Linked DNA regions of Homo sapiens: regions 2 and 3 are each linked to region 1. The links come from fine-mapping of genetic effects on gene expression. A gene starts in region 1. Each other region holds a variant in brackets. All regions are shown on one strand. Distances are from middle to middle.

Region 1 (8,173 bases):
AGATGAGGAATCAGAGGCACGGAAGGATAAAGTGACCCCATCCAGGTGGTATTCCCAAGCCTAGTGTTCATCCCACTGTACTGTAGCTAATGTCTCTGAGGGCAGGTAACTTGAAACAAGGTCTGTGTGGAAAGCAAACTCCTTGCAGAGAATTTCAACGCAATCTAAGTGAATGCAGAAAACCCTTGAATTCTGTTCTTCCCTGGGCGATTGTGAATGCTGTCCGAGAGTGTGTCTTTCCAGGCAGGGAGCCAGTGTGCTGGGCTCACAAGTTCTCATCGCTTCCCTTTTTGATACCGTCTCATTACTTTTAATTGCATCTGAGTCTTTCTAGCATCTTGTATTTTGCTTCCTAATCCAGGGCATTTCTCTGCCTCCCACTGGTCCAGCACAGCACTTCTCTCTCTCAGAGCTCTCCAGAGAGGTGCCCCCAGAAAATGGAGCTGGTCTTCTGTAATGAATTCATCTCTGTAATGAATAGTATAATATCCAAGTCCCAGCATATTTACATAGCAATCTTCACACAAAAGCAACATTACAAAGGGAAGATTTTTTTTTTTTAAAGAATGCCATCTCAAAGCTCCATTTCCTATAGTACGAAGAACACTATTGGAATTACCCTGACAGGAAAACAAAAACAACTTCCAGGGATGCTGGGTGAGAGACAATAGTTAAACCAGACCCATTAATGTTTAAAATCAATGGAGCATAAAACTGCTTTTCTCTACTTACAGCCAGGCATCATCATACAGAAAGGAGGAAAACATTACCATTTTAACTCTACTGAAATCCGTAAGCCCTCCCCTAATTTTCATTCCTCTCGAAATTCTCCAGTAAGTACCATCGGAATGAAAATGAGAATCAGTCTCTCCGGGGGGAATGGCTTCCAGTCCTCATCAGTAAAGTGTGTGAACAGCCCTCGGGAGATGGAGGTGGGAGGCTGCCCACTGGGAAAGTCTCCATCACTCAAACCTGCAGAACTAGTTGCGGAGACTCACTGTGGGGCATGGGAGCCTCCGGGCTGACTTCAGTAAAGCCCTACACAATCCCAGGTCAGGGTAGACCTGAGGCAGAATTTAAGAAACCTGGCAAGTGCACAGAAGTAATACCCTCAGGGTACGTTTCACCTAGTGGGCTGCATGGGGGGGATCTTCAACATTATTATGTTAAATGCTCCCCAGGGGGGACTCGCTGGAATTGAGCCAGACCTCTGTTAGTAAACCGCTGGACCTAATCCTACATTTGTGTAATGCCTGACAACACCCGTTCCCATTATCTTATTTGATCCTGAAAACAATCCTCAGAGGGAGGCCAGGCAGGGATTATTTCTCCTATTTACAAGTGAAAACACTTGTAAACTGATTTGCCTGGAGTCCCACACCCAGGATGTGGCAGGAATGAGACTTGGATCTAGGTCTTTGTACAACCTGTTCTGGGTTCTTTTGACTTCACACAACAGACTGATCAAAACATTCCCAGCCCCACCCACTCCTCACAACCACCAGCTTAACCAGCAACTGGAAACTCACCAGACAGCTTGTGTTTATGCTACCCTCACACCTCTGTCCTAGTGAAGAAACACACCTTTGGCTGGCAAGCTCTCCAGGAAAAAATTAATTTCATGTCATCTCCTTGAAACAAAGACCAACATTAATCCCAGATGGATTTGAAAAAAAAATCAAGGCATTTGAAAAATCTAAAGAAAATAGAATGGAATATTTAATAACTTTCTGGCAGCAAGGAGACTCCAAATTTAGCATCGTGTTAGAAATTTCAAAGAGATTTTAAAATTTGCCTACATGAAAATTTGGTTTTAGTGGGGGAAAAAATGACTGTACAGAGCCAACAAAAGCCTGGAGACGTATTTGCGGCAAAATATGAAAAGGGTTAACATTTGGTATGTAAAGGAGTCATGCAAATACGTAAGAAACACTCCCTAGGAAAATCTTATTAGGAAATAGACAATTCATAAGAAAGGAAGTACAGTTTGTTAACAAACATTTAGAAAACTGCTCTACCTAACTGAAATCAAAGATATGCAAACTGAAGGGAGAAAATTTCCCTATATAATCCGCAAAAAAAAAAAAATTCAATAATACTCAAATACTAGTGAAGGTGTAATGATGTATGCTCAAGCATTAATGATGGTAGAGTACATTTACCTAACTCTTGGAAAGACACTTCCTGAACATTTATCAGTAAACCTTAAAATACCCAACTACTGTGACTTAAAATTCCACTCCTGGGAATATGCCCTAAGGAAAGAATCATCAATATCTTAAAGTGTCGCGCACAAAAATGTTAGTTACACACTTAACGATGGTGAAATTAGGCAAATGTTAAAAACATAGGCACTTGATGGAAACTTATGTAATCATTAAAATGTTTTCAAAGTGCATGCAATAACACGAAAAACGTTTATGATGTAAGGCAAAGTGGAAAAGTGTGTAACACTGTATGCATGTGTTTGTATACTACACTTTCATAGAACAAAGGCTAAAAAGGAAAAAAATTTAAATGTGAACCATGAGAGATTTTTTCCATCCCTTATATTTTTCTTTTTTTTTTTGAGACGGAGTCTCGCTTTGTTGCCCAGGCTGGAGTGCAGTGGCGTGATCTCGGCTCACTGCAACCTCCGCCTCCAGGGTTCAAACCATTCTCCTGCCTCAGTCTCCCGAGTAGCTGGGATTACAGGCGCCCGCCACCACGCCCGGCTAATTTTTGTATTTTTAGCAGAGATGGGGTTTCACCATGTTGGCCAGACTGGTCTGGAACTCCTGACCTCAGGTGATCCGCCCGCCTCGGCCTCCCAAAGTGTTGGGATCACAGGCATGAGCCACCCACCGCTCCTGGCCAATCCCCTATATTTCTATTTGAACCTTAAAAAAAAAAAAAGACCCTTCTTTAGCCGAGCGGCGGTGAGTCCTATTCTCATGATATGTCCGGGGGCTTGAAGACTGCGGGAGGGAAAGCCTCTGGGACCTCACCTCAGAGCGATTCTGCTCTGCTTCAAAGCGTCCCCTCTTAGGCCGGGCGCGGCGGCTGACGCCAGTAACCCCAACACTTTCGGAGGCCGAGGAGCGAGGACTCCTTGAGCCCAAGAGTTCGAGACCAGCCTGGGCAATATAGTGAGACCCCCCCCCCCCACCACCGTCTCTACAAAAAAAATTTTTTTAATTAGCCAGGCGTGGTGGCCGCGCCTGTGGTCCCAGCTGCTCCGGAGGCTTAAAGTGGGATGATTACTTAAGCCAGAGTTCGAGGCTGCAGTCAGCCGTGTTCGCGCCACTATACTTCAGCCTGGGCGACAGAGACCTTTTCTAAATAATAAATAAGTAAATAAGTAACGTGCCGCCTCTTCACTCCCAATTCCCTCCGCCTTTCCCCGCCCCGCCTCGTCGAAGCCGGACCCGCGGCGGCCCGCCCCTCCCCCACGACCAGGGCCGGGAACTGCGGGTGCGCGGGGCGGGAGTCGGGCGGGCTTAGGCGCGGCCGACACGTGGGGAGGGAGGCCGCGGCCCAGGAGGCGGGCCCGGAGTGGGTGTGGGTGTGTCCGTGCGTGGGAGAAACCAACCTCAGCCTCCTCCGAGGCGCCACGTTTCAGCACGGCTCGTTGGGCCCGGGAGGTCGGAAATCAGTCCCCACGCCCCGGACCCCCTCCTGGAGGGACAACGAACACAGGCGCGGGACGGCTTCGGTCACCGCCCGCGCCGCCCTTTGCCCCCGTGCCTGCTCGCGCGTCACCCCCGCCCCGGTGCGGTGGTAGGGCCCGGCGCGACGTCACCCATTGTTTACAAATCAACCCGAGCCGGCAGGATTCCGGCTCCAGCGGCTGCAGGCGCGTGGCTCGAGTGCCTGGCGGGCTCCGGCTTCCGCGTCCGCCCCTGCTCCGGCTTCGCCCGCAGCTCCGCGCCCGCGGGCAACCAAGCCCCCAGCGAAGCCCGCACAGCTCCGGGTGCCAGGACGGGGGGCCATGCCGTGCCGGAGGGAGGAGGAAGAGGAAGCCGGCGAGGAGGCGGAGGGGGAGGAAGAGGAGGACGACAGCTTCCTCCTGCTGCAGCAGTCGGTGACGCTGGGCAGCTCGGGCGAGGTGGACCGGCTGGTGGCCCAGATCGGCGAGACGCTGCAGCTGGACGCGGCGCAGGACAGCCCGGCCTCGCCGTGCGCGCCCCCGGGGGTGCCGCTGCGGGCCCCGGGGCCCCTGGCTGCGGCGGTGCCGGCGGACAAGGCCCGGCCCCCGGCGGTGCCGCTGCTGCTGCCGCCCGCTTCGGCTGAGACGGTGGGCCCGGCGCCCTCTGGGGCCCTGCGCTGCGCCCTAGGGGACCGCGGCCGCGTGCGCGGACGCGCTGCGCCCTACTGCGTGGCGGAGGTCGCCGCAGGCCCCAGCGCGCTGCCGGGGCCGTGCCGGCGAGGATGGCTCAGGGACGCGGTCACCTCCCGCCGCTTGCAGCAGCGCCGATGGACCCAAGCCGGGGCACGCGCCGGCGACGACGACCCGCATCGGCTCCTCCAGCAGCTCGTGCTCTCGGGAAACCTCATCAAGGAAGCCGTGCGGAGACTCCAACGAGCCGTCGCCGCGGTTGCAGCCACGGGCCCCGCAAGCGCCCCTGGGCCCGGGGGAGGCCGCAGCGGACCTGACCGCATTGCCCTGCAGCCCTCAGGCTCCTTGCTCTGACGCAGGCCTCCTGGAGGAGGAAGTGGAGGCCGCTGCGTAGACCCAACAGCGTCCAGTTCCTACTAACTCTGAGCTGAAGCCGACGTCGCCAGCCTGGGAGCGACCACTTTGGCTGCGGGGAGGCGCGTGGGGAGAGATCTCAACCAGAGAAGTTACCAGCCGCGGCGAGGCCGTCGGAGAAAACTTAAGCGTGGAGAAATGTATGCGCCAGGGTGCTTCCGTGGGGCATGAGAATTTCCCGGGCCATCCAAGCCCAAGGACCTGGGATAAACTGGGAGAACTATGGCAGCTACTTGCATCGACTTGTACCTCACTTAGCCCTTGGGGGCGTCGTGAGCTTGGATTGTTTAAGGAGGGCTCAGGGGTAGGAATCGCGATGGCTTTATAACAATACTTGAAAACTAACGACACGCATACATTTTCTTATTTTCTGGTGGAGGAGCTTAGTAAGTGGTGCTACAATTGCTGTGCAAAGAAATTCCAGAGGGGAGAAGAATGTAAAAGTTTGGTGGTGGGTGGCTTGGCATTGCCCCTTTTTCCCACCGATTCGGTGGCTGGTGAAGGTGGGAGATGTGAACTCCAATTAAGGGACTGGAGAGAGGTGAAGAATTTTGCAGGTGGGAGATTTGGATTTGAATGTGGACTTGTAAATGACTTGACCTTGCCATCTGTGTTCAAGGTCACGGTTTGCTGTGGGGTTCCTGGGAGAGCTTACTCACCCCGGAGTCTTTTCTTTCTCTTGCTCCAAGAAGAGCCCTGTTGGTGCTTTACCACCGCTTGGAGTCTCCCGAGGACACAAACAGGCAGAGAGGGACGTGTAGGGAGAGTTCTTTCCTGTTTTCTGTGCTTTCCTTTTTACAGGACTCCCGGAAGGCCACTCATGGCCATGCCAGGAGCTTTCTCAGAAACAGTCATAAACGATCTCTTGAGTCTCTTTCTTGTCCTCCCAGCTGAGCTTTCTTATTCCACCCTTTCTGGTGTCTATAGGAATGCATGAGAGACCCTGGACGTTTTTCTGCTCTCTTCTGGCCCTCCATGGAGTCATGGGCCTCGGCCTCGGCGGCTCCTCACCCTCACAATTTATTTCCTCCTCCCGTGCCAGCCCTTCTTTTGTGTCTGAAACCGGTTTTAAAATGTGACTCTCCCAGAGAAGAAGCCGCTGGCTGTATGAAACTTGACGGCGCTTTTGTAAGGTGCCACCCCCAAACTTTAAGGTAGCTAAACCAATTTTTAAAAGATTCAATGGCTTGTTCATCCTCCAGATGTAGCTATTGATGTACACTTCGCAACGGAGTGTCTGAAATTGTGGTGGTCCTGATTTATAGGATTTCATAATTAAAATGTCTGCTGAATAAATTTGGCTTTTGTTTTGGAGCACGGTTTGGCATTTTGGTGGAAGGTGGGAGAGGGGCAGAAAAGCATATGGGGATGTCCTTAATAAAGAGGGCACTTGGGCTAAACCGGGGGGGGGGGACCTGGACAAATGGTTTGGGCCAATGCTGATGGGCACAGAATCCTAGTAGAGCCACAGGACTTGAGTGCTTCTAAGTTTTTATTCCACAAGATCAGAAAATTGAGTCCAGGTTTTTAGAAGCTGCAAGATGGGCTTCCACTCCCTTTGTGGAAAGACAATGTATTCTAGAAATGCTTTCTGGGCTGGAGAGCAAAGAGGTGCTGTGGTGGAGGGAGGTGGGTTTTCATCTGGACGTTTTTGTGCAAAATGGGGAGGGCACAGGCGAAGCCAGCCTGCTTTCCCCTTTGAGACTGACCTAGTCTTGAGCTATGGCCTTGGGAGAGAAAAACAGGGTTTTACAGCAGTGTATTTGGTAGTTGTAAAATGGCTTGGTTTGAGCACTCAGGGGTTAGATTTGACCGAAGTAGCCCTCCTCCTCTCCTCATTCTCTCTCTGCCCTGTCTTCCCAGGCATAGAGCCCTTGCTGAATCCCTTCCTAGTTCCTGCCTTGCCCTTTTCTCTTTTTAATTTAATTTTATTATTTTGAGATGGTGTCTTACTCTGTAACCCAGGTTGGAGTGCAGTGGCACGATCTTGGCTCACTGCAGCCTCAACCTCCTGGGCTCAAACAGTCCTCTCACCTCAACCTCCTGAGTAGCTGGGACTACAGGCTCATACCACCATGCCAGGCTAATTTTTTATATTTTTAGTAGAGATGGGTTCTCACTGTGTTGCCCAGGCTGGTCTTGAACTCGAGCTCAAGTGATCTGCCCTCCTCGGCCTCCCAAGGTGCTGGGATTAAAGGCGTGAGCCACCACACCTGGCCCCTGCCTTGCCCCTTCCTTGCCCAGCTCTACTAACCCAGCCCCCGGGGAACCTCTCCTGCTCAGCACACTCCCGAGGCTGGGGCTGCAGAGGAAGGCTGATGCTCAGTTGCCTCAGCCCTTTCTGCTCACCAGCTGTGTCATGGTGGGCAAGTCAAGACTCTGAGTTTTTCCCTTGTGATTTGTAAAACAATAGTACTTAATAGGGGAGTTGGAAGGGTTAAATGAGGACTTGAAGGGGAGACTTCATTGCTCAAAAAGTGATAGCTGCTCATTCTTGGTACTACCACATGGCTTTATGTGCCACGAGGTAGGCACTATTTTTCCATCTTATAGATAAGGACTACAGACAATGGGAAAAGACCTACAAGATCTGAGTGTTTCTCTACTTCCTAGGTAGAGATGGAGCTGATCCCTGTTAGGGCAGGCACCCTGGTTGGCACCTTTTACAAGATTTTTTTTTTTTTGAGATGGAATCTCGCTCTGTCGCCTGGCTAGAGTGCAGTGGTGTGATCTCAGCTCACTGCAGCCTCCCTCTCCTGGGTTCAAGTGATTCTCCTGCCTCAGCCTCCCGAGTAACTGGGACTACAGGAGCATGCCACCACACCCAGCTAATTTTTGTATATTTAGTAGAGACGGGGTTTTACCATGTTGGCCAGGATGGTCTCGATCTGACCTTGTGATCCGCCTACCTTGACCTCCCAAAGTGCTGGAATTACAGGCATGAGCCACGGCACCTGGCATTTTTTTTTTTTTAAGACGTGGTCTTGCTCTGTCCCCAGGCTGGAGTGCAGTGGCATGATCTTGGCTCACTGCAGCCTCCACCTCCTGGGTTCAAGCAATTCTCCTGCCTCAGCCTCCCAAGTAGCTGGGATTACAGGTGCCCGCCACCACTCCCAGCTAACTTTTGTATTTTTAGCAGAGATGAGGTTTCACCGTGTTGCCCTGGCTGGTCTCAAATTGCTAACCTCAAGTGATCCACCTGTCTTGGCCTCCCAAAGTGCTGGGATTACAGGTGTGAGCCACCGTGCCTGGCCCTACTTTGCTTTTTACAATGGTGAAAGGAATTATTGGTGGTAGAGCAGAATCAGAACTCAGGGCACTTAAGTTGGTCCTCTTGCCCCCTGTCTGAGCCTACACACAATGCTCTTCTCACACACCCTTGTCACCTGTCTGAGCCTACACACAGTACGCTCTTCTCACCCCAACTCTTGCTACTGATCC
Region 2 (8,146 bases), 29 kb before region 1:
GCTCGCCTCCCTGAAAGCCTGGTGCTCTGTCCGGCAGATGGAAGCCATTGGGAAGCTTTCAGATGACATGCGGCGGCACTTCCGCATGAAGCTTCGGAACCTGTTCACCAAGTTCATCCGCAAGTTTGGGTCTGTGCACTGAGCAGGGGCGGGGGTAGGGCAAGCGAGGGGCCGAGGATTTCCAGTCCTACCAGGGACACTACATCTGGGTCGTGCTGTCTGGCCAGTGCCTCTCACCAGCCCTTCCTTGCCACCTCCAGATTTGAGCTGGTGAAAAGGCTGTTGCCCGAGGAGTACCACAGAGTCCTGGTCAACATCCGGAAAGCTGAGGCCCGGGCCAAGAGGCACCGAGCCCTGAGCCAGGCTGCCGTGGAGGAGGAAGAAGAGGAGGAGGAGGAGGAGGAGCCCGCCCAGGGCAAAGGTGACAGGTGAGACCATGTTAGGGCCATGGGACCCGGTGTCCCCCCAACCCAAGGGCCTGCCCAGGCAATACCCGCTGACCCCCGCCTCTCCTGGGAGCACTCTGACTGGGGGCTTTTTGTCCTTAGCATTGAGGAGATTTTAGCTGACTCAGAGGACGAGGAGGACAATGAGGAGGAGGAAAGAAGCCGAGGCAAGGAGCAGCGGAAGCTGGCACGACAGAGGAGCCGGGCATGGCTGAAAGAGGGCGGTGGGGACGAGCCCCTCAACTTCCTGGATCCCAAGGTGGCCCAACGAGTCCTGGGTAAGCACAGGGCTGGCCAGTGCACTCAGAAAACAGACTTGCCATGGTGCCAGGTTCTCAGGTGGTGGGTAGGGGGTGGCATCCATGGCAGGCCCATGGACAGGGCTGAGAGGCGCCCGTTTGGGATCCCTGAGCCGGGCTTGTTGGTCATGATGAGGGTGAGTAGCATGGGACTGGCCTTCCACCTCCTCATGCCAAACTCTACACCCCAGCCACGCAGCCAGGGCCAGGCCGGGGCAGGAAGAAGGACCACGGCTTCAAGGTGAGCGCCGATGGCCGGCTGATCATAAGGGAGGAGGCAGACGGCAACAAGATGGAGGAAGAGGAAGGTGCCAAAGGTGGGCCCAACGCGCTTGTCCATTCATTCACCGTGTTCACTTATTCCTTCGGTGATCACTTGCTGAGGAAGCGTGGCTAAAAACAGACCAGAGAAACTCTTCTCTCGGCAGCTTCCTCAAACTTTTTGAGTTTCTCAAACTTTTTTTGAGAAACATTAAGAAATCTTTTTATGTTGTAACCGAGCCATTTATACAATACATATTTAACTTAAAGGAAACTATCGGAAATGGTACTTCCCCTTACTGTGTGTGATACGCTGTTAGTCTCTTCTGTTTTTCTCCTCCTCCTCCCCCTCCTCTTCCTTTCTCCTTTTCTTCCTTCCTCTTTTTTTTTTTTTTTTAATGCAAACTTGGCTAAGGCCCTGAAGATGATTTAGAGGCAGAAAGAGCCAGAGGCTGAAACCCTCCCAACTTCCCAATCCCAATGTCTCACATTGCCCGGGAGTCCCTCCGGTGTGGCATCTCGGAGCTCTCTTTAGTCTTTCCTGGCCCCTCTCCACATATCCAGCCATTAGCTAAGAAACACTTAGGTCTTCGCCAGGCGTGGTGGCTCACGCCTGTAATCCTAGCACTTTGGGAGGCCAAGGCGCGCAGATCAGGAGGTCAGGAGATCAAGACCATTCTGGCTAACACGGTTAAAACCCATCTCTACTGAAAACACAAAAAATTAGCTGGGCGTGGTCGCGGGCGCCTGTAGTCCCAGCTACTCGGGAGGCTGAGGCAGGAGAATGGCGTGGACCCAGGAGGCAGAGCTTGCAGTGAGCCAAGATTGTGCCACTGCTCTCCAGCCTGGGTGACAGAGCGAAACTCTGTCTCAAAAAAAAAAAAAAAAAAACACCTAGGTCTTCAAGAACACACCTGTCATCCCTTTGTTTGGTTCCCAGTGCTGCGAGCTCTGGGCCCTTGTCTCACTGCACCTCCTAACTGGAGCCTCACTGCTCCACATGCACCCAACTCACCAGCCACACGACTGCAGCCGCTCGGTCAGCCTCTCCTTAGCTCCGTTTCCTTGCTTCAGAGTGGATATCATACAATCCTAATACCCACTTTTCCGGGTTGGAATGAAGATGAATCGGTGTAATGGGGACAGCGTATGTACTTGGTGTACATGTGCCTGTTATATTTCCGTGTCTAGTGTCTTCTCTGCTCCTCTCTCGCCCCTGTATACTTTCCCATCTCCTGTCCCCCTTGGTGCCCAGGCATTCCTGAGGCTGTCAGGACCCCTCCCCTCTCTCTCTGCCTTTCCAAACCCCCCTGCTCTTCAGGATTCAGCTCAAAGCTCCTTTTGTAGCCCTTCCTGGGCACCTCAGCCTTTAGGCCTGATTCCCCCAGAACTCCTGCCAAGCCCAGAGGAAACCCAGTCTTCAGCCCTTGGTCATGTGCTTTCTTTGGAGATAGAGTCTCGCTCTGTCACTCAGGCTGGAGTGCAGTGGCTCGATCTCGACTCACTGCAGTCTCCATGTCCTGAGTTTATGTGATTCTCCTGCCTCAGTCTCCCAAGTATCGGGGACTACAGGCGTGCGCCACCATGCCCAGCTAATTTTTGTATTTTTAGTAGTGATGGGGTTTTGCCATGTTGCAGACTGGTCTTGAACTCCTGACCTCAGGTGATCCTCCCTCCTCGGCCTCCCAGAGTGCTGGGATTACAGGTGTGAGCCACCACACATGGCCGGTCACGTGCTCTCTATCGTCTTTTGGTTGTTGATTGACTTTGCCTGAGTTTCTCTTCCCTCCAATTGGTCAGTTTCATACTTTATATTCCCACATGGAGCCCAGCACATACTGCATGGGGCAGAGATTTCAAACAGGAGAATGAAGCCTTCCTGGCACAGTGGGGGTGTGTATGGGGCTGCAGGAGCGCCTGACTCCCCCGGAAACCTGGGGCTTTCTTCAAATCTCAAACAGATGAAGGGTGGGTGAGTGGGAAAAGAAAAGTTTCAAACGAAGCCATATTCACCTCAAAAGTAGGATCACCGCTTCTTTGAGGGGCCGTTATCCCTAGGGCCTAGGGTGGGAAGGAGAAAGGGGCAGTGCTCAGGGGTCTCATCTCTTCTAGCAGAAGGATGATATTGGTCTGAGGAAGGCAATTTTCTGGGGCCGGAGTTGGTGGCCCCGCAGCCTGGTGAGCCAGGAGGGGGCAGAAGGAAAGGGTAGGTTTTGAGGAGCTCCCACAGCGCTCATGGGCCTCTCTTTTTTGGCTCCAGGCGAAGATGAAGAGATGGCTGACCCAATGGAAGATGTGATCATCAGGAATGTGAGTAGTTCCTGCAGATGGGGGGCTAGGGCTTCAGACCTAAGCCTGGGCTCCACAGCTTCTCACCCCCACCACACGTAGACATTGGAACTGCCCTGTTTCTGGAATGCTCGGTGCATCCTCACAGGTGTGCATAGCAGGCGGTCCAGAAGGTTGTGGGTGCCAGGCAGGACAGGGTGATGGTTGTCTAGTTAAAGGAGAAAGAAGGCAGAGACCCTTGTCTCTCTAGCGAGGGCATGTGCTATGCAGGGGCAAGGGCAGCAGCTTCCCTGTGTGCTCCTGCATGGGGTGGGGGCATCCACCGTAGGGGAGCATGGCTGTGTGCCCAGCACTGTGCTGAGGGCCCCACATAGCCTCACGAAGATAGGGACTCCGTTGTCCCAGTGACCAGAGGAGCGTACAGAGGTAAGTAGCCTGCCCAGGGTCACAGGACTCAGTCTGTGCAAACCAGGAATTTGAACCCTGGTTTTCCAGTCTCCTAAGCCCAGGAATTCAACCTCTTTGCCACCATTACCCCTGTTGACCTGGCAGTGCTGCCTGCCAGGATGGAAACAGCCTCTCAGCTGCCCCACCTGAACCAACAAGGGTGAAGTGGGCCCAACCCATCACCCAACACCTGTCAGTCTCAAGCTCAGTGGAACATTTCCATTCTGGAGCAGTTTCTTCCCTCTCTGCCCTTCCAGACTATGCCCCAGCCCATCCAGCCTTCCTGGGCACCACCCGTAGGTGACAGAGCCTACATCAGGGTATAGTGATATCGGTGGGGAAGCGGCAGACTCTGGGGTCCCATCTTGGCTTCAGCCTAACCTTTTAAAGCCTCAATTCCTGATCTGTAAAGTGGGGTTATAAATAGACCACCTGGTGGAGTCATTGGGACAGTTTGGTAAGATTGGGCGTGTAAAGTGCATTAGCATAGTGCCTGAAGTGTTACAGACTTCCCCCACATCCCCGTTTTCATTGGCGTCATGTTTGTCAATGTCTGCCCATATGCCTTGCCAAGTGTCCATCTGCCCAGTGTGGCCCGAGGAGGAGTTTGTTATTAGAGCATTGTGACAGCGCAGAATTCTGTTTGAAGAGCTGAGTACATATCCAGAGTCTTGGGTCAGAGAGTAGCTGAGGACCTGAGCAGCCTCTGATGCGGGAAGCCCCTCTGGGATGCCCTTGAGGAAAAGCAGTGGGGCTTCTGCTGAAAACCCTCCTGCCCCTCTCTGCGCCCAGGCAACCACTCCTGTGGGACAGCTTCACCTACTGGGAGTCCTTCCTCTGCTTGGTCTGACATGGGCCCCTCCGAGAGGCCACCCTCAGGCCAGTCTAGTCTCCCTCTCCAGGTGATGGCAGTCGTCTGCCAAACGTGTGTCTGGGCCCAGACTGCCTGGGCTCAAGTCTTTGTTTCTGTGTACAGTGCTTGCCACTTAGTGATGCAAAGTAAGCC[A/G]TTGTGACTTGATTATTCACTTTTCCTGGAAATCTTTTTCCATTCAAAGCCTCCTGGGTTCCTTAAGCACATCTTCACATGTGGCTTTGCAGATCCTCGGCAGCCTACTCCTCTCCCTGGCCGGGGAGAACCGACCACGGCTTTCTAAGGATGTCCCCCACTGCCCCGGGCAGAGCGGGACTGAGCAGATGCCTTGTCTCCAGGCACTGAGAGGGCCCCAGGGCAGTTGCATTCTGTGGCTGGCTCCTGCCACTGAGACCCCCAGAGGGTTTCTTGCATGGCACTTAGTTCTAACTCTTTTTTTTTTTTTTTTTTTGAGATGAAGTCTCACTTTTTCGCCAGGCTGGAGTGTAGTGGCGCAATCTCGGCTCACTGCAACCTCCCCCTCCCAGGTTCAAGTGATTCTCCTGCCTCAGCCTCCTGAGTAGCTGGGATTACAGGTGCATGCTACCACGCCCAGCTAATTTTTGTATTTTTAGTGGAGATGGGGTTTCATCATGTTGGTCAGGCTGGTCTCGAACTCCTGACCTCGTGATCCACCCACCTCAGCCTCCCAAAGTGCCAGGATTACAGGCGTGAGCCACCGGGCCCGGCCAAGTTCTAACTCCTCGGCCAACCATTGTGGAAGCATGAAGTGCTGGGGTTCAAGTAGCTGCCTCCATTCAGGGCCAGCAGGCTGGGCTGTTGGCCAAGCACCAGCTGAACCAAGAGCCAGCTCAGCCATCATCCCCTACATTGCAGTCGGAGTCAGCTTCCTCCCGGTTCCTGTTTCTCCACTAGGAGCCCACTCAGCTGGGCTTCGGCCAGTGGACCTGGAGTCCCCCGTCTCCCAGGCACACCCTGTGTGTGCTGCAGCCTGTTCGCTCTGCCCAGGCCGATCCCTTTACCTGGCATACCTTTCCCCTGGTTGGCCTCTGGATCCCCTGGGTAGCTGGAGCCCTGGGAATCTGCAGTTTCTAGAGGTTTCTGGGGCACAGTGGCACAGACCACAGTGCAGGGACCAGCCTTGCCAGCTGGGGCCACCTCTGTTTGCCTGCCCTCCCTGCACAGCACGCCTCTGCCTGGCCTGGTTGTTGGTTCTAGGCTCACATCTGATGGGCTGGGGCCGCTGTCGGGCTCTCCCTCCTTCCCTTGGACTGCCTAACACAGTGCCAGGCGCACAGTAGGTGCTCTGTCACTTCCTGTTGAATATAATTGACGAGCTGACGTGTCTTACTGTCCATGATCATACCTGCTGGGATGGTAGCATTGTTGAGGATCAGTGATGACTGGCTTGAGCAGGGGTCTCCCACCCGCCTGAGAGCCCGTGGAGCACAGGAACTAGATCTTGTGCCCTGTGTCCCCAGGGCCTGGCACTTAGTAGGGGATCAGTAAGTGAGTGATTAATAGGGAGAGTGGGGTGGGGTTTGTGTGAAGCAAAGAACTGGTAAAGCTATTCTCTCTGAAGAGGCCAGGGACCTCATTTTCCCCATTAGGAAGGCTGGGTAAGCTGATGTCAGAAGCCCTCTGGGCAATTGCAGGCCTGGGTGGGGCCCAGAGTGGAAAGGAAGAGCAGGAACGGCCGCCACCAGCCCGGCAGTCAGGACATGGCCAGAGCTTCTCTTCTGCACTGCCTGGCTTTGTGATCTTGGACAGTTCCTTGCCCTCTCTGGGCCTTAGTTTCCCCATCTGTAAGTGAGAGGTGGGGTGCTTAGCAGAGGGCCTCTCCTGCTTGATGCAGGGTACTCTGCTGTTACTGTTGGCATTCCCGAGGGTGGGCACATCCCCTGGTTCACTCACTACCCACCTATTCTCTCTCTATAGAAAAAGCACCAGAAGCTCAAGCACCAGAAAGAGGCTGAGGAGGAGGAGCTGGAGATACCCCCTCAGTACCAAGGTGAGGCTTCCACTCCTCTCTCCTGGGACACATGGATCCCTGTCACCTGCATTAGGGAGGGGAGTCACAGGAAGGGGTGGCAGGGCCATGAGGGTGCACAGCCTGGTTGCACTCACTTGGCACCAACAGAGGTTGGCTGATATGACACTCAAGATGGGCCTGGAGTCTAAGGGGCCCTGGGGGTGTGAGAGAGCCTATGGGTTAGGAGATCTGTGCATGGAACCACCAGCCTTCTGAGGAGCCCTGAGCCACAGCTCCTTCCCACCCGCCCAGGCCTCCCAAGAGGCTTGAGTCTGTCCCTTCTGCGAGCTGCTTGCCTCTCTTGGTCACCCTAAGAGCACCAACCGAGTCAGGCTGGGTTTAGAGAAGCCACTTGGCCGGTGCCAGGGCTGGGAACTGGGAAGGTTGGTATTGGGTCTGGCCAGAGGGTTCCCCTCTATTTCTATCTCTGGGCCCACCAGCTGTTGCCCTCCTAGAGCAGCTGCTAGAAGTGCCAAGGTGGCTTCACCTCTGCTTCCTTCCTCCCAGGGTAGCCTTGCAGGACCCCTGCCCCCAAGCCCTTGCAGCAGAGCCCTTGCTTTGCATCTGGAGGTCCAGGGGCTCCTGTGGGAAGCCTCTGATTCCAGTAGCTGGTGTGTCCTCAGCCCTAGAGCATCATAACGCAGCTGCACAACCTCATGGCTCTTCCGCCTGTGGCACCCATGAGCCAGGGCCAGCTCACCTACTGTGCCCTGGGATGGAGTGATGCTGAGGCAGGAGTACCTGCCAATTGATGAGGCAGAGACCTGGGGTCAGGGCTGCTTGCCCAACCTCTGCTTAGCTGTTTGACCTTGGCCTGGTTACACTGTCTGTCTCTGAGCTTCTAGTTTCTCATCTGCAAAAACATGAGGAATGGGGGTGGTTCGTGTTGGTCGTCTCAGAGAGTCCTCCTGAGCTGGCATGGTAGGATTCCATCCACAACTTGTCGTTGAATGTTGAAGTCCAGGCTGGAGAAGACAGCTGACCTTGGGCAAGGATCTTGATCTCTCTAAGCCACAGTGTTCACATCTGTTACAATGGGTTAAATAGCTACCTGCTATCTCAGTGTTTGTGTGAAACCCAAATGAGATAAGAAGGGAAAGCCTAAAATGGCTTCTCTTACAGATGAGGTTAAGAGGCTTGCCTGAGGTTGGAGCTGTAAGTGGCAGAGCTGGGAGTTGAACCTGGCTGGCTGGCTGGCTGAATTCTGTCTGACTTTGGAGAATATGGGTTATTTTTTGTTAGTGTGTTAGCGGAGAATATATGTGTTCCCAGAGGTCTCTGGTAAGCTGTAAGGCTTCTGGGTCAGTCTGAGGAGCCCAGTGATCTAACTGTCAAATCACCAGACAGTCCCTCCTCGAGGAAGGTCTTTGTCCTGGTTTGATAGGGGACAGAGCCAAGTTCCTGGCCTTCACTCATCTGCTCCCTTGCAGCTCTCTCAGAGAGGGTGCCCATTGCCTTTCTGGAGGGGGCTGCCCTGGCTTTGCCTGACTCATGGTCCTGT
Region 3 (8,173 bases), 240 kb before region 1:
CCTCCCCTCCATTCCTGCTAGGGCCAGCCTTTTCCAACAAGTCCTTCTCAGGGCCATCAGAGCTGCTTTCCTAAAATAGGTCAGATGACACCAATCTCCCTCACTCAATAACATTTAGTGGCTCCTCACTGCCCACAGAATAAATATCTTTTACATGGCCCTCTCTGGCTTGTGTCTTTCCAGCCTTAGCCCCTACTACCAGACTTTATCAAGACAGCCACGCTTTCACTCATGGAAACTTCAGCTCCTGCATTTCCTGAGGCTGGAATACCCTCCACCATCCTGGACTCCACTGAGTCCCCTTGAAGGCCCAGCTCAGGTATCCTCCTGTCCACAGAGGAGTCCCCTTTTTTTTTTTTTTGAGACGGAGTCTCCCTCTGTCACCCAGGCTGAAGTGCAGTGGTGCGATCTCGGCTTACTGCAACCTCCGCCTCCCAGGTTCAAGCAATTCTCCTGCCTCAGCCTCCTGAGTAGCTGGGATTACAGGTGCCTGACACCATTCCTGGCTAATTGTATTTTTAGTAGAGACAGGATTTCACCATGTTGGCCAGGTGAGTCTCGAACTCTTGACTTCAAGTGATCTGCCCACCTCGGATCTCAGATCTCAAAATGCTGGGATTACAGGCTTGAGCCACTGCACCTGGCCCTGTCCACAGAGGAGTCCTTGAAGGCCCTCAGAACAATTCATGAGCCCCTTGTGTTCCTCCACTTCTGATTCACACCTCTATTTAGTCATTTCTTCCCTTTGCCTTGTTTCTTAGTTGACTATGAAACCAACAAATGGGCTAAAATGAATCCTGGGTTGGTAAAAAGAAGGCAGGGTCTGACCCTTATTGGTCCACCCATTTCTACAGCTCTGGGCTCTTGGCAGAGCCAACACTAGATGAAGTATTAGTTTAAATAAAGTGAAGAGTAGGGGCCGGGCATGGTGGCTCATACCTGTAATCCCAGTACTTTGGGAGGCCAAGGTGGGTGGATCATCTGAGGCCAGGAGTTTGAGACCAGCCTGACCAACAGAGTGAAACCCCATCTCTACTAAAAATACAAAAATTAGCCAGGCATGGTGGTGCATGCCTGTAATCCCAGCTACTCGGGAGGCTGAGGCAGGAGAATCGCTTGAACCCAGGAGGCGGAGGTTGCAGTGAGTCAAGATCATGCATTGCACTCCAGCCTGGGCAACAGAGGGAGACCCCGTCTCAAAAAAAAAAATGCAGAATAGGACAAGCCAGCACCCCCTGCCACCGCTCCACTTCCTTATCCCAGAGAAAATGCAATTGCCCAGAACACCACACGCCAAAGGACTCCCCAAGGGTGGCCAGCAGGCTGGCAAAATCCATGCTTCATTTCCCAGCATCCCTTCCTCACTCTCTTCTTCACTGGCCAAATACTGGAGTTTCCCCTGCCCCAGCCTCCCACTCAGTCACTGGGGCATCACAGGGCCACACATTCCTGAAAGTCCCAGGCAGCACCCAGCTGTCTGCTTTGTACAGCCCACTGTCTCTCAAGGCCCAGGAGGGTGAGCAGTCTTAGGAAGCCCAGCCCAGCTCCCCATCTCACTGACTTAATTTTGAAGGCTGAAGCCTCAGTCTTCTGCTGCCAGCAATACCCCCTGCCAGTAATACCCTGGGACAGGAATGAGGCCCAACTGGGCCCCTGGGGACATCTGCCCCCCTCCCCACCACAGGTGTAGCAGACAGGATCTCCCTCCCCTTGACAGCAGAACTGGATCTCCTCAGACCCCCTTGGGCACCTCCACCCCTGCTCGCACCTCATTCTCCTCCTCCTGTGCCAGCCGCTGCTCGATGAGCGCTGTGGCCCTCTGCACCGCCTCGGAGTCCTCCATGGTGCCGTCCATAACCGCCTCTGCAGGCCACAGGGCCTCGGGGGCTTTATAGGCCAGAGCACCCACCCCTGCCCAGCTGGGCGCCTTTGCCATGAGCTCACTGGCCCAATTCTCCACCTGCCTCCCCCACCTGTCACCTTCACCTCGGGCAGCCCCAGGGAGCAGGGGGAGCCAGGGCCAGGGAGCAGAGCCAGTTGCCCCCCCAACTCCTGGCCTATTAGAGCCGGAGGGCACTGTGTCCCAAGAGCAGGGGTGCAGGAAGGAGCCCGTCCAGCCTCTGTCCTGAGCACTTGGGACTGGTTGGGCCTTAGCCAAGGCAACTGAGTTGCAAAAGGGAACTGCTGGCTGCATGCTCCAGCCCAGATGACAGTGCCACCTGCTGGATGCCTGGAAACCCTGCTCAGCCAGCTCCAGGAAGAGGGCCTGAAAACCAAACGGGGGACCCAGGACAGTTCTGTACTCCCAGGCTGTCCTGCAGACAGGCCCTGCTGGCTGTGAGGAGGGTCACACTCTACTTGTCCAGGCCAGGGCCGTGGTAGCAGGAAGGGCAGCTGTCTCCCTCTCTGATCACAGCTCACGCTGGCCTTCGGCTCTCCGGGGTCCCACATGCTTCCCCGTTAAGCATCACTGCATTTGGCTGGGTGACTTTTAGTCATGAACAAACCTTATCCAATCTGTCTCCTCTCTTGGTAAGTGCTCAGGGGACCTCTGCAGGGCTTACAGAGTCTTGCTTCAAGAAAGGGGTCTCCGGAAAGCACTAAGCCCAGCTAGCGAGGAACAGCAGCTACTCTGGATCCTTCTACCCTCCCAGGGTTTCCCTGTCAGGCCCAGACAGTGCCAGACTTCCCTGGCCAGGAGGCTGCCCATGCTCACTAAGAAGGAAAAATACTCCCAAGTGGAGCAAAAGCAGATCTGTACTTGCTCAGTTCCACACCTGGAACTCGCATGCTGGAGCTCTGAGTCACTGTGACCCAGGTTAATCTGCTAGGGAACTGCAGACACCCAGCCCTGTGCTTCTGTAAGGCTCACCTGGCTGGTGGCTGCCCTTAGCTAAACAGCCTTATATAAGATTCCCTTCTCTTCAGATATGCATGCATTCCCCTAGGAAGCATGAGGAACCGGTTCCTTTTCCTTTCTGGTTCCCTTGCTGGGAAGCTGACACAAACCTCTGACACACGATCTAAATCTGTCAGAGATTTTGCTTTAACATCACGATGGCTACAGCGTCTCCAGGGCCGGAAGTTAGCCCCTCTTGCTGCAGGAGCAGACCACCTTCCTGAGGTGCTGTCTTCGCCTTGCAAGCACTTTCACATCTGTCTTCCTGCTTAATCCTCCCAGCAACTGATGGAGGAGGCAGGGCAGGCAGCATGGCTCTGCTTTAAAGAAAAGCAAAGAGTGGCTTTTCCTGAGGACTCATGAGGACACCAGGGGAGCTGGGATCAGGGCCCAGAAGACTGGCAGTTCCAGGCTCACTCTGCTGGAGATTGCATGCCCAGAGCAGCTGGGGAGGCCAGGCATCCACCTGTTCCCATACCAGAACAGCTCCAGGGGCCCCACAGAGCTGCAGGAGAATTCAGTCAAATGCCAGGCAAGCGAGAAGGAGCAAAAGGCTTTATTGATAAATATGCAGATATGTCTGTCCACAGGGACCTGCTGTGGAGGCCATGACCAGGCTGCAGACCTCCCACTGCCTGGGTTACAGCCAGGACATGGCCCTGTGCAGACCCTGCCACGACAGCCCAGCTGTCCACCACCCGCCTCATCTCTGCCAATTGTGCTGGGGGCAGGGAGAGGCAGAGGCCCGCCTCAGGCTTCCCAAGCCCTGGGGCTCACGGGTGGTTCCCTCCCTTCCAAGGGAGTGGCACTGTGCCCAGGGGAGAGCCAGGGGATGGGGGCAGAGGAGGGAGACAGCAGCTGCTTCAGACCCTGAGCAGAAAACCAGAGTGAGCACAGCTGGCAGCACCAGATGACAGATCTGGGCTCCAGGGGCCTCCTGGTTGGCCCTTGTGGCTCGAACCTGCTTCGGGAGACAGGCAGGGTGAGGGCCCTGTTCGCCTTTTCTCTGACAAGGTTGCAAGGCCCGTGTGTGGCTGCCTGCTCCCTGGGTACCGGGAACTGGTGGCGCGTAGTGCCCTGAAAGGCAGGGTCCCTTCACGGCTCACCCACCAGCCACACCGAGGGGAGGGCCCCTGAAGAAAATGACAGCACTGGAAGGCAGCAGCAGGGTGGGGGCCTAGTGCTCCAGGCGGGGCCTCTTCCCAGGGGTCCGTGGGCCCATCAGTCCTGGGGTGGTGGGGGCTGGTTGATGATGACCTGGATGACAAAATCTTTCTGGATCTTGGTCTCCTGGAGCCGTGTGCGGTCTGTGAGCAGCTTCCCGGAGAAGAACCACCGCTGCCACGATGGCTCGATGCCCTCCTGGGCGTGCAGCTGCCTCTTGAGCTGCCCCACTGTGTCGGGCAGGCTGGCGCTGAGCCTCACGTCCTTGCCCGTGGACAGGCGCACCTTCAGCGGGAACTCACGGCGCACGCTGGGTGGAGGCTCGGGGGGCTCCAGGCTCTCCTCCTCCGTGTGCTCCAGCAGCAGGTTCACCGGCGGTGACAGGCAGTAGATGGGCAGCTGGTAGCGATTGCCCAGCTCATCGTAGCATTCACAGAGGGTGCCTGTAGGAGAGGCAGGGCTGTCAGAGTCAGCTTGGGGATCCACTATCATGGATTAAATGTTTGGGTCCCCCCAAATTCATATGGTGAAACTCTAACCCCCAATGTGACTGTATTTGGACATGGGGCCTATACAGAAATAAATAAAGTTAAATGAGGTCATAGCGTGGGGCCCTGACCTTCTGACCCCTTGATGGGAAAAATGGTCCTTTTTTTTTTTTTCTTTTGAGACAAGATCTCCCTATGTTGCCTAGGCTAGTCTCGAACTCCTGGGCTCATGCAATCCTCCCACCTCAGCCTCCCGAGCAGCTGAGACTACAGGTGTGCTCCACTGCCCTGGCTTACAGTTCTTGTAGAGACACTAGAGCACTATCTCACTCTCCACTCGCTCCCCATGTGAGGACACAGCAAGAAGACGGACACCTGCAAGCCAGCAACAGAGTCCTCACCAAAACCTGAACCAGCC[A/G]GCACCATGATGCCGGATTTCCCAGCCTCCAGAACTGTGGAAAATAAATGTCTCTTGATTAAGTCACCCAGCATGTGGTATTTTGTTACAGGAGCCTGAGCAGACTAATACACCTGCCATGGCCACCCCACAGTCAGATCTCCCTAGGACAGCCTGATGACCAGGTGTACAGGGCTGGAGTCAGGAAGACCTGAGCTGGCATCCCAGCTCCACCAGGTACTGGCTTGTTCATCCTGGCATATTATTTTTCACTTCTTCACATGTGCCAGGTGCTGGGGTTACAGGGATGAATGAAATAGCACAGCTCTGCTCTCCATGGGCCTTAGTGTCCTTACTGGCAAAACGTAATGCATGGAGAAATATGTTTATTGTCTCTTGAGCACCTACTAAGTGCTGGGACTGGACTAAATGATGTTATGTGTATCTTACTGAATCCTAATAATCATCTCCCCTTTACAGTCGTAAGGCAGTCAGGCTCTAAATTCGAGAAGCTCCTTGCTAAAGCCAAGACAGTTAGGAAAGGGAAACATTCAGACTGAAACCCAGGTCTGTGGCCAGGCGCAGTGGCTCACGCCTGTAATCCCAGCACTTCGGGAGGCCAAGGCGGGCGGATCACCTGCAGTTGGAAGTTTGAGACCAGCCTGACCAACATGGAGAAACCCTGTCTCTACTAAAAATACAAAATTAGCTGGGCGTGATGGCGCATGCCTGTAATCCCAGCTACTCAGGAGGCTGAGACAGGAGAATCACTTGAACCCAGGCGGCGCAGGTTGCGGTGAGCCGAGATCGCTCCACTGCATTCCAGCCTGGGCAACAAGAGGGAAACTCCGTCTCAAAAAAAAAGAAACTCAAGTCTGTGATTCTAGGGCTCCACTGTCACCCTCTGCTTTACATGGCCCCATAAGACTGCTATGAACTTACGTGAGCTAATGCAGTGGAAGTTTCTAGTTCGGTGTCCAGCACATAACAACCCAATAAAAGGTCAGTGCCTTTGGGAGGCTGAGGCCAGTGGATCACTGGAGCTTAGGAGTTTGAGACCAGCCTGGCCAACATGGTGAAACCCCGTCTCTACTAAAAATACGAAAATTAGCCAGGCATGGTGGCACATGCCTGTAATCCCAGCTACTCAGGAGGCTGAGGCAGGAGAATTGCTTGAACTCAGGAGGTGAAGGATGCAGTGAACCGAGATCCCACCACTGAGCCTCAGCCTAGCCAACAGAGCAAGTAAGACTCCATCTCAAAAAAAAAAATAAAATAAAAAGGTCAGTGCCTTGGATGTTCTGGGGTCCCAAAGTGCATTTGTGACACTGCTTTGCAGGTTTGTTGTCTTTCTGTCATGTCATTAGGCAAGCATAGACTGTGTCTCTTTTTCTTTGTGTACCCACTCCTGGTCCATGCTCAGTAAGGGGTGCTTGAATGAATGAATACGTGAGTAACCACCTGCCCCACCGCTCCACACTCCTCAACACCCTCAAACTGTGCTGGTGACCCCCTAGCTCCAGCGGGGATAAAGCCCTGGCCCTGCCCACTTACCATGAGGCAGGGTGATGCTGGCTCCATCCAGGATGGCCTGGGCCAGCTCGTGGTCGTTGGCTTCAGCAGCATAGGCGGCAGCCTTGAGGGCATCCCAGATCTCCTTGCGGCCCTCGAAGGCAGGCGCTGTGTCCCAGAACTCATCCCGTTTGCTCCGCAGCTGCCCGTCAGTCATGGGGTAGTCGCTCTTCCACTTAAGCCGCTCTTTCTTCAGGGGCTCATTGCGTCCTGGGCAGGACAGAAGGAGAGGCTCAGCATCTCTAAAGCCACTTGAGCTGCAACCTGCCCTCCCCCTCCCCTCCCCTCCCCAGGCCAGACCCTGAAACCCTGCTGCACTGGCTACTAAGTATTCAGGTCTTTGAAGCCCTTCCTAAATAGCAGGGAAGAGTCAGAAAACTTCACATAACCAACCTAGGGACATAAAATAATTGTGTCAGCAAAGCATACGCTACCATTGTTTTTGTTTTTTGTTTTTTGTTTTTGAGATGGAGTTTCACTCTTGTTGCCCAGGCTGGAGTGCAATGGCATGACCTCGGCTCACTGCAACCTCCGCCTCCCGGGTTCAAGCGACTCTCCTGCCTCAGCCTCCCGAGTAGCTGGGATTACAGGCGCCCACCACCACGCCTGATTAATTTTTGTATTTTTAGTAGAGATGGGGTTTCACCATGTTAGTCAGGCTGGTCTCAAACTCCTGACCTCGTGATCCACCCGCCTCAGCCTCCCGAAGTACTGGGATTACAGGCGTGAGCCACCGCACCCTTCCCACATGATGTGGGGCAGGGCGCGGTGGCTCACGCCTGTAATCCCAGCACTTTGGGAGGCAGTAGGATTGCTTGAGCCCGGCAGTTCTAGACCACCCAGGGCAACATGGTAAAACCCTGTTTCTACAAAAAAATTTTAAAAATTAGCCAGGCATGATGGCACGCTCCTCTAGTTCCAGCTACTTGGGAGGCTGAGATGGGAGAATCACTTGAGCCTGGGAGGTTGAGGCTGCAGTGAGCTGTGGTCATGCCACTGCACTCCATCCTGGGCAACACAGCGAAACCATGTCTCAAAAAAAAAATTATTAACAATTTTAACATCTTGTTACTAATGTCCCACTTAAAAAAAGGATTTTTTAAGCAATCATGACCAACAAACTCCCCCAAAAATTCCTGCAGCATCTGACAAAGAAAACAATTCTGTCAAATGTCATTTTTCTTGTTACCCAGCTCCAAGTGACCTCCAAGACAACTCCAAACCACAGCCAAGACTGAGGGCAGAGGTATCTCTCAAAGGCTTTTGGAGGCTCAGTCATCTCAAAACTAAAGGCAGAGTGAGCCACAGGAGTGAGATGTGAAGCACTCTGCTTCCACTATAACTCAGGTCCTACAGTGAGTGGAAGAACTGAGGCTGGGGGCCACCACCAGGCTGCTCCCACTGGCTGGGGCAAAAGGAAGCAAGGAAGAGAATTGCAGGCAGCGATCTCCGCTGAGAAAGAACCCCAGGCAAGCCTTTATTTATATACATGATCCCATTTCATTCTTGCAGTAGCCTTAGGCAGTAGGTATTATTATTGCTATTTCACAGGTGATATGACAGATTTAGAGAGATTAAATGACTTGCCCCAGGTCACATAGTAAGTGAGTGAGGGTTCCACCTCAGGTCTGACTAAATCCTGTAGTTCACCAT

Which allele goes with the higher level. Positions count from the first base shown, and alleles are read on the strand shown. Sizes are in standard deviations (SD) of each study's normalised expression. Not every link is listed here.
With allele A in place of G in region 3, the expression in visceral fat of the gene that starts at base 3,814 in region 1 is higher (moderate effect, 0.62 SD a copy in GTEx).

Evidence for each region. PIP is the estimated chance that this variant, and not a neighbour inherited with it, causes the effect.
Region 2: its variant is fine-mapped to the expression of FRAT2 in whole blood (INTERVAL, PIP above 0.99).
Region 3: its variant is fine-mapped to the expression of FRAT2 in visceral fat (GTEx, PIP 0.98).

Annotation. Positions count from the first base shown.
Region 1 is chr10:97,330,370-97,338,542 of GRCh38, reverse strand. It overlaps FRAT2 (FRAT regulator of Wnt signaling pathway 2), which reads left to right and starts at 3,814. Exons shown (of 1, transcript NM_012083.3): 1 at 3,814-6,046. The coding sequence starts at 3,971. The coding sequence ends at 4,672. It overlaps LOC105378448 (a long non-coding RNA gene), which reads right to left and starts at 3,697. Exons shown (of 2, transcript NR_188201.1): 1 at 3,572-3,697. RefSeq lists enhancers at 1,140-1,658, 4,196-5,103 and silencers at 3,246-3,595, 3,726-3,875, 3,966-4,115, 4,456-4,585, 4,596-4,645.
Region 2 is chr10:97,359,024-97,367,169 of GRCh38, reverse strand. RRP12 (ribosomal RNA processing 12 homolog) reads left to right here. Exons shown (of 34, transcript NM_015179.4): 26 at 38-129; 27 at 261-428; 28 at 549-724; 29 at 937-1,062; 30 at 3,267-3,316; 31 at 6,552-6,624. Among named protein-coding and RNA genes, the nearest start is that of FRAT2, 28 kb to the right of the region's middle. The variant A/G (reference allele first, on the strand shown) is at 4,749.
Region 3 is chr10:97,566,471-97,574,643 of GRCh38, reverse strand. It overlaps UBTD1 (ubiquitin domain containing 1), which reads right to left. Exons shown (of 3, transcript NM_024954.5): 2 at 6,503-6,730; 3 at 3,438-4,506. The coding sequence ends at 4,121. ANKRD2 (ankyrin repeat domain 2) reads right to left here and starts at 1,865. Exons shown (of 9, transcript NM_001346793.2): 1 at 1,769-1,865. The coding sequence starts at 1,855. RefSeq lists a silencer at 7,784-7,873. The variant A/G (reference allele first, on the strand shown) is at 4,970.